Linked DNA regions of Homo sapiens: region 1 is linked to region 2. The links come from fine-mapping of genetic effects on gene expression. A gene starts in region 2. The other region holds a variant in brackets. All regions are shown on one strand. Distances are between the middles of the regions. Region 1 overlaps ZBTB4 (zinc finger and BTB domain containing 4). Region 2 holds the start of TMEM102 (transmembrane protein 102).

Region 1 (8,322 bases), 37 kb before region 2:
TCTTTACCATTCCCTCACTGGCACTTGATCTGAAGGAAGCTCAGTTCCTCATCTGCAGAATGGGGCTGATTGTCTGCCCTGCGTATCTTCCAAAAGCACATGGGAAACGGACCCGGAAAGTGGCTATAGTCTGGGGGCTGTGCCTATGCCAGCCCCTGTCAGCCCTCCCCCAGGACTGGGAATTCCCTTCTTGGGGCTTCGCTGATAATAATGGCAGCACACACTTGCTTAGCACTGACCGTGCACCAGCCTGTCCTCAGGGCACTTATATGTGGCCACTCTGTCCTCAGAACAACACCCTGAAGTAGGCACTCTACCTCCCTTTTTCAAGTGAGGCAGCTGAGGTCCAGAGAAGTTAAGTAATCTGCCCCAAGTCACTTAGCTAGTAAGAGGTGAAGCTGTATTTGAACCCGGGCAATCAGGTTGAAGATCTTGTGCTCTTAACTACTGTACTCTGCTGCCTTCTGGAACATTCAGTGGATGGTCCTTTCTGTGCAACTCCCTCCAACACTCTTCTCCCCAGTTGCTGCAGAACTTAGCATTTGCAGCAGTCCATTTCAGAAGACCCGGATGCTCAGGGATCCCCAGCTGAGGGCATGAGAACCTGAGTCTCTGCTGCTGTGTAAGGTGGATGCTGGCCATAGGAGCACAAAAGGTTGATGAGTCAGAGGAAGGAATGATCGTTCTCATCCTGTGGATCAGGGAGGGCCAAGAAGGAGGTGGCCTTGGAGTCAGATCTTAACGTTTTGGAGGGATTTTGACAAGCTTGGGGAAAGAGCATTTCTGGCAGAACAAGCCAGCACAGGCAAAGGCATGAAGGTGTGGGTCATGTAGAAGCTGGAGAGCACACTGGGTGTCTGGGGTTTTGTTCATTTGTTTAGAAACTGGGTCTCAATATATTGCCCAGGCTGGACTCAAACTCCTGGGCTCAAGCAATCCTCTAGCTGCAGCCTCCTGAGTAGCTGGGACTATGGGTATCTGCCATCACGCCTGGCTCACGCTGAGTACTGTGTGTTTGAAGAGGATAACACAAGGCAAGATTAAAAAGGAAGATTGGAGCTAGACCAGAGCCCTTGACTGCCTGGTAGAAGAATTTGAACTTTCTTCTAGAGTCAGTGGGGACCAGTGGAGGTTTTGAGCCCAGGAGTGATAGTCCTGAACTGTGGTTAGGGACGTTGACCCTCAGGGGGAGGAGGGCTGGATGGAGGAAGGTAAGCCTGGAGGCCAGGGGATAGCTGGGAGGCCATAACCTTGGACCACGTGAGTGTTAACAAGGACCTGAGCTATCGAAGGGAAGATTTCCAGAGCCATTCCCAAGCTCGGCGGCGATTTCAGCCACACTTGATGACTGCTGGATGTGGAAGTGAGGGAAAGGGTGGAGTCAGACATGACACATTTAGCACTTAGCACGTGAGACCTTGTGCGGTGGTTTATGTAACCAGCTGGCGGGCCATAGGCCTCTTCAGGGCCAGGTCTAGCAGTATGGCAGAGGGAAAGATTGAGCATCTGGGGTCAGCTGGGCCTGGATTCGAATCTTGACTGCTGCTTACAAGCTGTGCGACCTCGAGTAAGGTATATCCCTCTCTGAGCCTCGGTTTCCTCTTCTGTAAAATTAGAATAATATGGCCGGGCGCAGTGGCCCATGCCTGTAATCCCAGAACTTTGGGAAGCCAAGGCAGGTGGATCACCTGAGGTCAGGAGTTCAAGACCAGCCTGGCCAACATGGAGAAACCCTGTCTCTACTAAAAATAAAAAAACTAGCTGGGCGTGGAATCCCAGCTACTCTGGAGGCTGAGGCAGGAGAATTGCTTGAACCCAGGAGACGGAGGTTGCAGTGAGCCGAGATCACGCCACTGCGCTCCAGCCTGGGCAACAGGATAATATAAAACCTATTGTGGGTGGCTGTACTGAGAATATCATTAAATGAGGTAATGTGTGTGAGGCCCCAAGAAGAGTATGAGGCAAATTGTGAGGACTCCAGAGTGGTCAACTTATTTATGGTTTCTTTTAATTTTTTTTTGAGACGGAATTTCTCTCTTGTTACCCAGGCTGGAATGCAATGGCATGATCTTGGCTCACTGCAACCTCCGCCTTCCGGGTTCAGGTGATTCTCCTGCCTCAGCCTCCCGGGTAGCTGGGGTTACAGGCGCCCGCCACTACGCCCAGCTAATTTTTTATTTTCAGTAGAGACCAAGTTTCACCATGTTGGCCAGGCTGGTCTCACCATGTTGGCTAGGCAGGTGGTCAATCCCTGACCTCAGGTGATCCACCTGCCTTGGCCTCCCAAAGTGCTGGGATTACAGGCGTGAGTTGGCCATACCTGGCCTTTTTTTTTTTTTTTTTTTTTTTTGAGGCAGAGTCTCACTCTGTCGCCCAGGCTGGAATGCAGTGGCGCAATCTCTGCTCGCTGCAACCGCCACCTCCCCGGTTCAAGCAATTCTCCTGCCTCAGCCACCTGAGTAGCTGGGGTTACAAGCGTGCACCACCACACCCAGCTAATTTTTGTATTTTTAGTACAGATGGGGTTTCATCATGTTGGCCAGGCTGGTCTGGAACTCCTGACCTCAAGTGATCTGCCCGCCTCAGCCTCCCAAAGTGCTGGGATTACAGGTGTGCGCCACTGTGCCTGGCCCAGAAGTGGTCAAGTTATAATTGTCATCCCTATCTCCAGGCCAACTCAGTCCAGCGTGGACGATGGCTTCCATCCTGGAGGATGGACTTTGAGGACAGGTTCATTCATTTACCAGTTTTTTTGTTTTGTTTTTACCACCTATTACGTGCTAGGCCCTATTCTAACGACTTCAGATACGGCAATGAACAAAGCAGACAAAATTCCCTACCCTTGGCCGGGCGCTGTGGCTCACACCTGTAATTCCAACACTTTGGGTGTCCAAGGCGGTGAATTGCTTGATCCCAGGAGTTCGAGACCAACCTGGGCAACATGGTGAAGCCCTATCTCTACTAAAAATACAAAAAATTCGCTGGGCGTGGTGGCATATGCCCGTAGTCCCAGCTACTTGGGAGGCTGTAATGAGAGAATCACCTGAGCCTAGGGGAGGTCAAGGCTGCAGGGAGCTGTGGTAACACCACTGCACTACAGCCTGGGTGACAAAGCAAGACCTCATGTCAAAAAAAAAAAAAGTCTGGCCATGGTGGCTCATGCCTGTAATTCCAGCGCTTTGGGAGGGAGGCCAAGGCGGGTGGATCACCTGAGGTCAGGAGTTCGAGACCAGCCTGGTCAACATGGTGAAACCCTGTCTCTACTAAAAATATAAAAATTAGCCGGGTGTGGTGGCATATGCCTGTAGTTCCAGGTTTTTGGGAGGCTGAGGCAGGAAAATTGCTTGAACCCAGGAGGCAGAGGTTGCAGTGAGCCGAGAGAGATCATGCCACTGCACTCCAGCCTGGGCAACAGAGCAAGATGCCATCCATCTCAAAAACAAAACAAAACCAAAAACATTCCTACCTTTTACCCCTTGGAGCTTACATTCCAGAGATAAATAAGAAATAGGAGCTGGGCGCAGTGGCTTTCCACTATGATCCCAGCACTTTGGGATGCTGAGCTGGGCGGATTGCTTGAGACCAGGATTTCAATACCAGCCCTGGGGAACATGGTGAAACCTCATCTCTACAAAAAATACAAAAATTATCTGGGCATGGTGGCAGGTACCTGTAGTCCCAGCTACTCAGAAGGCTGACAGGTGAGAGGATCATTTGAGCCCAGGAGGTTAAGGCTGCAGTGAGCCTCAATCTCACCATTGTACTGCAGCCTGGGCAACAGAGCAAGATCCTGTCTCAAAAAAAGATAAATAATTGACCAGGCTCTGTAATCCCAGCACTTTGGGAGGCTGAGGCGGGCAGATCACCTGAGGTCAGGAGTTTAAGACCAGCCAGGCCGACATGGTGAAACCCCATCTCTACTAAAAATACAAAAATTATCCGGGCCTGGCCAGGCGCGGTGGCTCATGCCTGTAATCCCTGCACTTTGGGATGCCGAAGTGGGCAGATCACAAGGTCAGGAGATGGAGACCATCCTGGCTAACATGGTGAAACCCCGTCTCTACTAAAAATACAAAAAAAAATTAGCCGGGAGTGGTGGTGGGTGCCTGTAGTCCCAGCTACTCCGGAGGCTGAGGCAGGAGAATGGCGTGAACCCGGGAGGCGGAGCTTGCAGTGAGCCAAGATCGCACCACTGCACTCCAGCCTGGGCGACAGAGCGAGACTCAGTCTCAAAAAAAAAAAAAAAAAAAATGGTGGCGCGCGCCTATAGTCCCAGTGACTCGTGAGGTTGAGGCAGGAGAATCTCTTGAACCCGGGAGGCGGAGGTTGCAGTGAGCCAAGATTGTGCCACTGCACTCCAGCCTGGGCGACAGAGCTAGACTCTGTCCCCCGCCGCAAAAAAAAAA[G/AG]AGAAGCAGTTGGGCCAGTTTCAGTGGCTCATGCATGTCATCCCAGCACTTTGGGAGGCCGAGGCAGAAGGATCACTTGAGCCCAGGAGTTCGAGACCAGCCTGGCCAACATAGAGAGATCCAATCTCTACTAAAAATAAAAAATAAATTAACTGGGCATTGTGGTGTGCACCTGTGGTGCCAGCTACTAGGGACGCTGAGGTGGGAGGTCATGAGAGCCTGGGAGGTTGAGGCTGCAATGAACCATGATTGTGCCACTGCACTCCAACCTGGGCAACGGAGTGAGACCTCATCTCAAAAAAAAAAAAAAAAAAAAAAAAAGAATGGCCAGGTGCAGTGGCTCACTCCTATAATCCTGGCACTTGGAGAGGCAGAGGCGGGCAGATCACTTAAGGTCAGGAGTTCAAAACCAGCCTTGCCAGCATGGTGAAACCCCACCTCTACTAAAAATACAAAAAAATTAGCCAGGCTGGGCGCGGTGGCTCATGCCTGTAATCCCAGCCCTTTGGGAGGCCAAGGCAGGTGGATCACGAGGTTGGGATTTCAAGAACAGCCTGGCCAAGATGGTGAAACCTCGTCTCTACTAAAAATACAAAAATTAGCCGGACGTGGTGGCAGGCGCCTGTAATCCCAGCTACTCGGGAGGCAGAGGCAGGAGAATCGCTTGAACCCAGGAGGCGGAGGTTGCAGTGAGCCCAGATCGCACCACTGCACTCCAGCCTGGGCGACAGAGCTGGACTGTGTCTCAAAAAAAAAAAAGAAAAAGTGTTACTAAGTGCCAAGGAGCAAAATAAAGTAGGGTCGGGAGATAGGAAGTTTTAGAAGGTGGGGAGTGGCCAGGGAAGGCCTCAGGGGAAGGTGGCTTCTAAGTCAAGGCTTAAAGGAAGTTGGGGTTCACTGCATGAGGCTATCTGGAGGAAAGAACATTCCAGCCAGAGGGAACCGCAAGATGTAGGGCGTCTCTGGTGTCCATGCTCAGATCCCCACCTCAGTGGCACATCTGAGGTCACACAGGCACTGAAGAGTAGAGAAATGGTAAGAACAAACAAATAAAAAACTCTAAAACCACAGAGCCACCAAACCTACCAGGAAGCCCAATTTGTGCCTTTTTTTCTTCACTACTTCTCCCCACCATTTTCCAGGACTGAGTTCTACAAACTAAATATTGCCAGTTGTTAGCTCATTTAATCTTTACAACAACCCCACAAGGTAGGAACTATTAATTGTCCCCACCGTATGGACAAAGAAACAGATACAGAGAGGTTAAGTAACCTGCCTGGGGTCACATAGCTAGTCTTTTCCACTTCCTATAAGGCCTTGCAGGGCAGTAGCCAGGATAGGGCAGTTTAACTCAAGCTGCGTCCAAACGCTGGGTTGGCTAGCAACAAAACCAGAGGCAAATAACCCCATCACTACCTACCTTCTACCTGAAAGGGAGGAGTTTAGAGTATTTGATTTCTCTAAGCCTGTTGTCTCACTGGCCATTTTGAGTGTTGAAATGAGATGATACAGATAAAATGCTTAGCATTATACTTTGCACATCATAAGTATTTCAAGCCTGGGCAACGTGGCAAGACCCCATCTCTACAAAAGTAAATAAATAAATTAGCCAGGCATTGTGACATAAGCCTATGGTCCCAGATACTCCGGAGGCTGAGGCAGGAGGATCATTTGATTCCAGGAGGTCCAGGCTGCAGTGAGCAATGTTCACACCACTGCACTCCAGCTTGGGCAACAGAATGAGACCCTGTCTCAAAAAAAAAAAATTTTTTTCATAAATGGCAGCTACAGAGACCATGATGACAATGATTGTGTGTGATCTTAAGGGCCAGTCCAGCATTGGGTGTCTCTAGTTCTAAGAAGCCCTGACAGGTCTCGTCCAAGTACTGTGGTAGTCAGCACACGGTCACACATGCATAGCCCACCACATATGGTTGTGCAGGTTGGCAGGCCCAGCCAGTGGGGTGAATGGGGACTGGAGGCAAAGCTTGACTTTGCCCACCTACACAGGGCTGCTACCTCCTGGAGGAAAGAACCTTGCTTCTAATTTTCAGAAAGGCACCCAGGTAGGATATTTGTGCCCTAGTGGGTGCCATAAACACGTCCTTCGTTAATATATGGTGAAGTCATCAGGAACACAGGCTTTGGAGCCAAACTTCCTGGGATCAGATCCCAGCCCTGCTACTAGCTGGTCATACGTCCTTGGGCCAGCTACCTAGCATTGATAAGCCATAATCTGACATTTTATTTATTTATTTTGAGACGAAGTTTCATTCTTGTTGCCCAAGCTGGAGTGCAATGGTGCAATCTCGGCTCACTGCAACCTTTGCCTCCTGGGTTCAAGTGATTCTCCTGCCTCAGCCTCCTGAGTAGCTGGGATTATAGGTGCCCACCTCCATGCCCTGCTAATTTTTTATATTTTAAGTAGAGACGGTGTTTCACCATGTTGGCCAGGCTGGTCTCGAGCTCCTGAACTTCAGGTGATCCATCCACCTCGGCCTCCCAAAGTGCTGGGATTACAGGCATGAGCCACCATGCCCAGCCTATTTTATTTTTTTGAGGCAGGGTCTTGTTCTGTCACTCAGGCTGGAGTACAGTGGCATAATCATAACTCACTGCAGCCTTGAACTCCTGGGCTTAAGGGATGCTCCCACCTCAGCCTCCTGAGTAGCTGGAACTATAGGTGCACACCACCACACCTGGCTAATTTTTGTATTTTTTGTAGAGACCAGGTTTCTCCATCTTGCCCAGGCTGGTCTCGAACTCCTGAGCTCAAGGGATCCACCTGCCTCAGCCTTCCAAAGTGCTGGGATTACAAGTGTGAGCCACTGCACCCAGCCCATGGTCTGTCATTTTATTTATTTATTTATTTTTTGAGACAGAGTCTCGTTCTGTCACCAGGCTGGAGTGCAGTGACGCAATCTCGGCTCACTGCAACCTCCGCCTCCCGGATTCAAGTGATTCTCCTGCCCCAGCCTACCGAGTAGCTGGGACTACAGGTGCCTGCCACCACGTCCGGCTAATTTTTGTATTTTCAGTAGAGAGAGGGTTTCACCATGTTTTTCAGGATGGTCTCAATCTCTTGACCTCGCGATCCACCCGCCTCTGCCTCCCAAACTGCTAGGATTACAGGTGTGAGCCACCGTGCCCGGCCTATTTTTTATTTATTTTTATTTTTATTTTTTGAGACAGAGTCTCACTCTGTCACCCAGCCTGGATTGATCTCCATCCAGCGCGATCTCGGCTCACTGCAGCCTCTACTTCCTGGGTTCCAGCAATTCTCCTACCTCAGCCTCCCAAGTATCTGGGATTACAGACACCCACCACCATGCCTGGCTAATTTTTTTTTTATTATTATTTTTAGTAGAGATCGCCACATTGGCCAGGCTGGTCTAGAACTCCTGACCTCAGATGATCCGCCCGCCTTGGCCTCCCAAAGTGCTGGGATTACGGGCATGAGCCACCGTGCCCGGCCTTAAAGAGGGAAAGTGGCCAGGCATGGAGGCTCACGCCCATAATCCCAGCACTTTGGGAGGCCTAGGTAGGCAGGTCACAAGGTCAGGAGATCAAGATTACCCTGGCTAACACGGTGAAACCCTGTCTCTACTAAAAATACAAAAAATTAGCCAGGCATGGCGGCGGACGCCTGTAATCCCAGCTACTCAAGAAGCTGAGGCTGGAGAATCGCTTGAACCTAGGAGGCGGGGGTTGCAGTGAGCTGAGATTGCACCACTGCATTCCAGTCTGGGCGCAGAGCGAGACTCCATCTCAAAACAAATAAATAAAATTTAAAAGGAGGGAAAGCTAACTGCTACCTTTCAGGGTAGTGATAAGGAACAAATGAGGTAATCCAAATAAAACACTGACTCTTGGGGTCCCGGTGAGCCAGTGGTTCTCATGGAGGCGAGTAGGAGGC
Region 2 (8,322 bases):
GCCCCTCAGCCGGGCCCTATTCTTCAGAGTCCCTGGCCTCAATCTCCCAGGCAGAGAAACCTCTGGCCGGGAGACCCCGCCCCAGCCGCACTCACCCGGGCCGCGGTCCGGCCGCGCGGGCCGCCCCCCGCACAGTCGCACCTTGGACAGCAGGATGAGGAGCTGCTTCTGGCAAAGGGACTTGGTGCCGCGGGGACACACGCGCCGCTGCGCCGACACCGGCCGGCTGCCCCCGGGCTCGCGGACCTCCCGCTTCTGCCGGATCAGGCTACTGGCCAGCGCCGCCATAGCGCCCCGGGAGGAGACACCCCCAAACCGGCAGGCGCCCGGAGCGCGCTGGGCTCCCCCAGAGGAGCCCGCTCACTAGGGCATGCTCTTGACGCTCAGGCCCCGACTCGCTGCCCCACCCACAGGACCTGAGGATAAGCCCCAGACCCCCCCCCTCACGTACCCCCCTCCACAGCAGCCAGTTACCACCCGTGGGCCCAGTGCTGGCTCCACCAGATCCAGCAGCCTATGTACTCCTCAGTGGATCCCACCCTCGAGTTTTGCCTCCTATTGAAAACGTCCCCTTTCCCTCCTCTCCAGTGTCTGTCCTCACTTCACCTATCCCAAAGCCAAGACCCACTAAATTTCCAAGACGTGGTTTAAATATCTTCAGGCACCTTTCCACTGTATTTTGGGGCACACTCCTGCCAAATCCACTCTTGTAATCTACAGGGTGTGGGACTTTAGCTTTGGGAATATTCGCTCATCCCACCCCTACTGGGGCACTGCCAATGTCAGGAAGGAACCCAACCTTGGTGTTTTTTCCTTTGCTACACTCTAAATGGAGGGGATCCCCCACTTTTTTCACTGAAATCCCCCCAAAATATGTCTCAGAATATCCAGGTTGCCCAGGTTCAGTAAGACAGGGCTCCCAGACCCTCTGGCTGGATAATACCTTTTTCACCAAGTCCCCCCCATGTCTAGTAGCATAGAATTCTAGCGGCCAAGACCCTTTCTTCACCTTCACACCCTCCGCTCCTTTTGAAGTCACCTCCAAATCCACCCTTCCTAGTGGATACACCAGGTAGTTGACTGGAGGGCCTTCCGCCACCTCAAAATGAGGAGCATCCGTGTTTGTTTTTGTTTTTGTTTTTTTCTCCCCTGGCTGCCCCTTAAATTTTCTTGGGGACAGCTGGTGCTGTTTAGATCCCACGCCCTCCAATCTAACCAGCCCCCCAAGAGAGGAGTGCACCCACGTTGTCACCAGTCCCCAGATGTGAACAGGCCCCCTACAAGTCAGAGCGGATCACAGCTTCCTGCTACAGGGCTTCCTCGTCCTCCCCGGGATTGCCTATAGCACCCCCTCTTCCTTTTCCCGACGCCCCTCAACCTGTCCTGTCCTGTTGATCCGGCGACGGGTGGCGCTGGCTTCGGCTCCAGGCTCCTCCCTCCCTGTCCCCCGCAAACGGAGCTTCCCCCCACGCCCGGCTAGGCGTCCCGGACCCTCGGGAAGGAGTGAGGGTGTCTCTGCAGAGCTCCCCGGTCCGGCGAAGTCAGAGCACTGGGCCGGTGGCTGGACCAGGCAGAGCGGCGGCAGCGGCAGCGGCTGTGGGAAGCTGAGGCGGCGGCGGCGGCGGCGACAGCAGTTCCCCCTCCTCGGAGAGCCGGCCCGGGGGCGGGGCAGGGGGCGGAGACGCTGGGAAATAGGAGGGTGAAGCCGGGCAGGAGGAACCCCGGGGTTCCTTGGAGGTAGAGAGTGCGGACTGTGTCTTACAAGCAGGCAAAGCCGAGGCAAGGCCGCACGTCTCAGCCTTCAGAGGAGGAGGGACAGGAAGGCCTCCTGAACGCACCCCTGGGTAGGAAGGAGAGGTTGGGCCTAAGGGAGATGGAATGGCGGACGCTGGGAGAAGGGAGAGAGACCCTACTGGCCGGGATGTTAGTGAAGAAAGAACCGCACGAGTAAAGTGGGGGAAGAACTGGAGAGATGGAGGATGGGGGGTGGTGAGATCCAGCCTTGGGCGAAATCCGGCCTCCTTCATATCTCTGCCGTTGTGTGAGCCAAATTGATCAGACCCTGGTCTCCATAACTCCTTTTCGCGTTTGGTCAGCAAATATGTTTCTCCCATTTCTATTGGCCCTTAAGAGAAATGACCAAAAGAACTGGGGACAGACGGTTTCTGGAAGCTGCCCCTGGGCGGAGTGCTGGCCACAGATGTGGAGAATAGCGAGGCTGGAATGGGGCAACTTGTGCGGGGGCAGGCGGGTGGGCGTAGAGGAGGAACCAACAGGGAGGTCTTCCAGAAGGGGGGCTTCAGGCCCAGGGCACACAGTCAGTCCCCCTGGCGAGGGGCGAGCAGGGCCCCCCACGTCCCGCTCGCCCACAGAGGCACTTTCCACTGGTAGGAACAGCGTCTTTAATGGGCCCCGCCCCCCACGCCCGCCAAACCGCCCCCCTTGCGGGCCACTTTGGCCTCCTCCACCGCGGCACGGAGGGCCCGGGCCGGGTCCCCGCGGAGCCGGGCCAATTCTCCGAGCAGCGCAGCGGAGTCGTCCCCCGTACGGAGCTGTCGGCCGTTCAGAAAATAGTGAGGCAACGTCCCGGCCTCGAGCACTCGGCCGAGCTCGTCTAGCAGCCCGAGGCAGCAGGCGCCCGCATTTTCTGGCCGCGCCAGGTAGAGCGCAGGCAGCCGCTCGCACGCCCAGTACAGCAGCGTCCGCAGGAGGTAGGGCGCCGCCGCCCGGGTCCCGGCCACCAGCGGGCGCAGTAGCGCCTGGGCCGCCGCGTGCGCCTGCAGCAGCGGCGCTGGTATGCGCGCTTTGAGCGCCAGCTCCTGGCGGGCAAAACAGAGCTGCCAGGCGGAGGCGCACGGCCGCTCGGTGCCGCCACCGGGCACCAGGTAGAAGGAAGCCGACTCAGAGGCCAGCGGACCGGCCCACGAGTGGCTCCGAGCCCCCTCGGGCCAGCCCGCCACGGACACCACTGGGATCAGGTCGAAGAGCAGGAGGCGGCGAGGGGGCTCAGGGGTAGCCAGGAGGACGGTGGTGAAACCCGCGTGGCGAGCTGCGTGCACCAGACGCGGAGCACCCGGGACAGGGATCAGAGACTCGGCGACCGCCGCCAGCGTAGCAAAGAACCAGGCAGCCACCTGGGCGGAACATAATGTGGGCCACGCTTCCCGAGCCTCCGACGGCTTTGGGACTGGGCTTTCGACGGCTGCCTTGGTGACGTCACTACTCATTGTTTTCAAAGGTGCGGTAGAGCCAAGGTCGACGACGTCATGCTGAGGCGACTCGGACGCTGAAACGTCACTAGGCGATTTTTCCAAAGACACCGGCGCCTCGTGCTCAGTGACGTAGCTGTGCGGCTGGTCTACAGAGCTTTGCCAGTCCTTGGAACTTTCTTCGCTCTCCGTTCGGTGGATCGAATCACGTGCTCCTGGGACTGGGGGTCCTAAGCAATCCTGCCACATCTCCCGGATGGGGGTTCCGCACACCATCTCTGGGAGGCAGACCTGTGCGTAACAGGATTCCAGGTCCAGTTGCAGTTCAGTGCCGTCCAGTGAAAACATGGGCACTAGGAGTGTGAAGCCGGCATCGTAGTGAGGTCCCCGGGCGTAGGGACCCAGGGGTGCATGCCCCAGATCCAGGGAGCCCTCGCGAATCCCACCACGAAGCAGCAAGAGCTCTGCCTGGGGAGGAAAGCGAGGGTCCCGGCGGTGAACTAGACCTAAAAAAAGGGAACGGATCGTGAGGGCGTCGCCCAAAGCCGGGGCGGGGGCGGGGGCGTGGTGAGGCTGAGAGCTGTGAGTTCCCAAAGGCAAGTAGGGTTACTTACCAAGCAAAGAGAAGACAAAGTCCTTGGCCCGGAGGAGATCGGCTCCCGGCTTGGGCCCGTCACTCCAGCTCTCCTGCACACCCAGCTCCTGGATCAGCTGGGTCAATTCCTGCAGCTGCGCCCCGGAGCAGAAGTCGATGTCCGTGAGCGGCCGAGCTGGGGCCGGGGGCGGCGGGCCCCACCAGGGGGCACTCCCCCAGACTGCGGAAGCCATGCGGTTCTATCGCTTTGGGCTGCGGAAAACACGGAAGGGAGGTGGCTTTGCTGCCACAAAGTCGTCCCCGTTCTTCCCTCTTCCTGAGGCCGAGCGAGTGCCCCAGACACAACCTACAAATGGGTCTGTAGATGATGGGTTCTAAATTTAGTCCTCAAAATGAACAAATAAATACCTCTTCTATCCTGGCCCTTTTCTCATAGGCAGGTCCCCGCCCCCATGAACTGGTTCACCGGACTCAGCAGGTAAAAAGTAACTGTTGGCTCCTCCTACGGAATGCAGTAGCCAGCCTCCGCTGCCGCCCCTTGTCTACCTCCCTTTACCTCTTTTTTGGAAGAGGCTTATTAGTCTGCGGCTTCCCCCTTATGGGAAGCAGTAAGGGTGGGGAGCAGAAATAGATTCAACAGGTTACTTCTTCCTGATGCCCACGTGGCCACGCCCCTACATTTTCAGCCACGCCCCTTTCTGGAGGCTGTCGAGGTGGTTTCCGCCGGGTCGGGTCGCCAGTCAGAGCTCAATCACTCTTTTGGCCCTGCTGAAATCCCGCGTTATCCTGGGAGTTGTAGTTTCCCGCTCTACTAGGGCGTGGTAGCCACGCCCCCACATCCTTTCCTGTTCCGCTGAAGTAGTGCCTGATGGAAGTTGTAGTTCCTCTGGAGACAGATTATTCTGTGTCTTTTCACACCCATATCAACCCCACTCAAACATTCCTTGGGGTTTGAGAGGGGTAATAGGATGGCTCTGAGTCGCAAAAAATAATGAGGGATGGGCCGGGCGCGGTGGCTCCCGCCTGTAACCCCAGCACTTTGGGAGACTGAGGCGGGTGAATCACCTGAGGTCAGGAGTTCAAGGCCAGCCTGGCCAACATTGCGAAACCCTGTCTCTACTAAAAATACAAAAATTAGCCGGGCGTGGTGGCAGACGCCTGTAATCCCAGCTACTTAGGAGGCTGAGGCAGGAGAATCACTTGAACCTAGGAGGGAAAGGGTGCAGTGAGCTGAGATTGTGCCATTGCACTCCAGCCTGGGTGATAAGAGCGAAACTCCACCCTAGGGCCTGGGGAGAGATAGGGACCCCTGCCTGGGTGGGGTGGGGGGGGTGCATCTTGGAATCCCAAAAGTGGTAGTGTTAGGCAGGAGCACACAGATGGTGACCCAGAAATGGACGTTTGACTCATAGGAGAGACATACATGTTAGTGATGCCCACCTCAGCTCACTGCTACCTGAGTCGTGGCAGGGAAAACACTTTGGGATCTCAAATTTTTGTTTTGTTTTGTTTTGTTTTTGAGACTGAGTCTCGCACTGTTGCCCAGACTGGAGTGCTGTGGCGCAATCTCCGCTCACTGCAACCTCCACCTCCCGGGTTCAAGCAGTTCTCCTGCCTCAGCCTCCCGAGAAGCTGGGATTACGGCGCCTGCCACCATACCTGGCTAATTTTTTGTATTTTTAGTAGAGACAGGGTTTCACCATGTTGGCCAGGCTGGTCTTGAACTCCTGACCTCAGGTGATCCTCCCACCTCGGCCTCCCAAAGTGTTGGGATTATAGGCACGCGCCACTGCACCCGGCCTGGGCCACGACTTCTTACATTCCTTCTGCCCTTGGTCTGTCTCCAGGACGGGATAGGCCTAAGTCCATGGATAAGATAATTAAGGAGGACATCTAGGAAAATTAGAGGCCTGTAAAAGAAGAGACTCCCCAACTGTAGAGATCAATTTGGCAAGCCCAGGACTCAGGGGTTCCTCGTCACTGACAGAGAGTTTTCTCCTTCAGCAACCAGAGCTGGGGTCCCTGGGAGAAGCGAGAGCACCAAAGCAGCCCAGAACTGCGCAAGTAGGTTCCCGTACACACACATCTGGCTGTGACCCAAGAGGCCAGATCAGGAGAACTGGAGACTGGGCTGTTTCTCACAGTCTGGAGTAACCAGGCATCAGACATCCCTGCATCTCACCTCCTTCCCAGAGGGTGGCTTCCGAGGCACTCTAAAAAGAACTAAGTTCTCTGGACTCTGTGGAAGCTTTGAAGATGTTAAGAATGGGTGACAAGGAATAGTTCCTCTAAACTCTAAAGCATGGCTCTCCAATATAATTTTCTGTGACGATAGCAATGTCCTGAGTTGGTCCTGTCTGATACAGTAGCCACCAGCAGCCACCTGTGGCTGTTGAGCACTTGAAATGTAGATAATGTGGCCAGGCGCCCTGGCTCACGCCTGTAATCCCAACACTTTGGGAGGCCGAGGCGGGTGGATCACTTGAGGTCAGGAGTTCGAGACTAGCCTGGCCAACATGGTGAAACCCCATCTCTACTAAAAAGACAAAAATTAGCTGGGCGTGGTGGTGCACGCATGTAATCCCAGCTACTCAGGAGGCTGAGGCAGGAGAATCGCTTGCTTGAACCTGGGAGGCAGAGGTTGCAGTGAGCCGAGATCGCGCCATTGCACTCCAGCCTGGGTGACAGAGCGAGACTCTGTCTCAAAAAAAAGAAAAAAAGAAAAAGAAAAAAAGAAAATGTAAATTAAAATTAAACAAAATTTAAAAATGTGTTCCGCAGTAACATCTACTTTTTTTTTTTTTTTTTTTTTTGAGACAGAGTCTTGCTGTGTCACCGAGGCTGGAGTGCAATGGTGCGATCTCGGCTCACCACAACTTCCGCCTCCCAGGTTCAAGTGATTCTCCCTGCCTCAGCCTCCCGAATAGCTGGGATTACATGCGTGTACCACCATGCCCGGCTAATTTTTGTATTTTTATAGAGACGGGGTTTCACCATGTTGGCCAGGCTGGTCTCGAACTCCTGACCTCAGGTGATCCGCCCACCTCGGCCTCCCAAAGTGCTGGGATTACAGGTGTAAGCCACTGCACCAGGCCTAATATACATTTTAATAGCCACATTTGGCTAATGGCTAGTGTATGGGACAGAGGAGCTCTAGGGCCTTGAGGATAATGGGCTTAGCTATGCAGCTATGGAGGAGAAACAGGGACCTGTCCTCAGTGGCTTTGTGGGTGGCCAGTATCGGGGATGGGCTGGGGTGGATGTCCTCAAACAAACACAGAACATTTCTCTCGCCTCTTTATTCCTGATGCACTTTTGTCCCCTCTTTGTCCAAGGTTCTCATCACATTCTGATATCCCCACTCCTTGATGGTTTCCCCGAGTTGCTGGGTGCCTCTTGATGAAGGCGCCTAGGAGACAGAGCTTCACACTTGTCCTTGCCCACTGCCAACCGTCTCTGACGGGCATCAAAAACCACATGCCCTGCCTGGGTGCCTGGTCCAGGGCAGTGGGACTTCCAGTTGATATGGGTAGGCATAGACATCTGACGATAGTTCTGGTAGCCTGAAGGAACTGTATCCACAGGGCGGTACGCCCCGTGCTGGCTGCCTGCCCGCCAGGAGGATGACTGCAGCTCAATTAATACAGGTACCTCTGAGAAGGTCTGCAGGTCATTGGAGACCACTTGGGCCTTGGAAGGGCAGGAGTTCTCATTGAGTTGGACACGAGCCCAGAGGACGTGCCGCTGTGCGTCCTCCTTCTGAGCAGCCTTCTCAGGCACAGATGACTTCATCAGGGACAGTGTGGACTTTGGGGTCTGAAGCAGGGACAAAAGCTGGACAAAATCAGAACCTAGGGCAGGGCTTGGGTTCTTGTAGAGGCTGGGATCTGGGATGAGGCATGAGCTCTTGTAGGGGCCAGATTCCTGGGTAAGGCCTGAAATCTTGGGGAGGCCAGAGTCTTGGACAAGGGCTGGGTCTTTATGGGGGCCAGGATCTTGATTAATTCCTGGGCACTTGTGGAGATTAGAGTCTTGGCTATGTTCTGAGCTCCTGTAAACTCCAACATCTTGGGGAAGGCTAAATCTTCTTTCAACTTTAGTGGCTTGGGTAAGGCTTGGGAGGTTGGAATCTTGAGTAAGGCCTTTAACTTTGTGGCCACCACAATCTTGGATAAGTCCTGGATTCTTGTAGTCTCCTGAGTTTTGGGTAAGGCCTGAGCACTTTGGGAGGCCAGAGGTTTGGACAAGGCCTGGGCTCTTGTGGAGAAAAGATTCCTGGATAACTCCTGAGCTCTTATTGACTTCAGAGTCTTGGGGAACATACGGACCCTTCTGTGATCCAGAATCTTCAGTAAGGCCTGCGGTACTACAGACTCCTGGATCTTGGACATTGCCTGTATTCTTGTGACCTCCAGAATCTTTAGAAGAGCCTAGGTTCTTTTGGTGGTCAGTTGCTTGGGAGAGATCTTGATTTTTGTAGATCACAGTCTCTTGGTTTGGTTCAAGATTCCTATAGAT

Evidence for each region.
Region 1: its variant is fine-mapped to the expression of TMEM102 in whole blood (INTERVAL, PIP 0.99).

Annotation. Positions count from the first base shown.
Region 1 is chr17:7,469,040-7,477,361 of GRCh38, reverse strand. The region is part of intron 1 of ZBTB4 (zinc finger and BTB domain containing 4); the gene reads left to right. Among named protein-coding and RNA genes, the nearest start is that of ZBTB4, 6.4 kb to the left of the region's middle. The variant G/AG (reference allele first, on the strand shown) is at 4,407.
Region 2 is chr17:7,431,587-7,439,908 of GRCh38, reverse strand. TMEM102 (transmembrane protein 102) reads right to left here and starts at 4,474. Exons shown (of 3, transcript NM_178518.3): 1 at 4,213-4,474; 2 at 3,824-4,056; 3 at 2,230-3,715. The coding sequence starts at 4,037. The coding sequence ends at 2,403. It overlaps SPEM3 (SPEM family member 3), which reads right to left. Exons shown (of 3, transcript NM_001364708.1): 3 at 7,089-8,322. The coding sequence ends at 7,147. It overlaps FGF11 (fibroblast growth factor 11), which reads right to left and starts at 397. Exons shown (of 5, transcript NM_004112.4): 1 at 96-397. The coding sequence starts at 288. RefSeq lists silencers at 196-295, 1,574-1,673, 2,645-2,924 and enhancers at 54-587, 841-1,749, 1,764-1,863, 2,660-3,569, 4,621-4,790.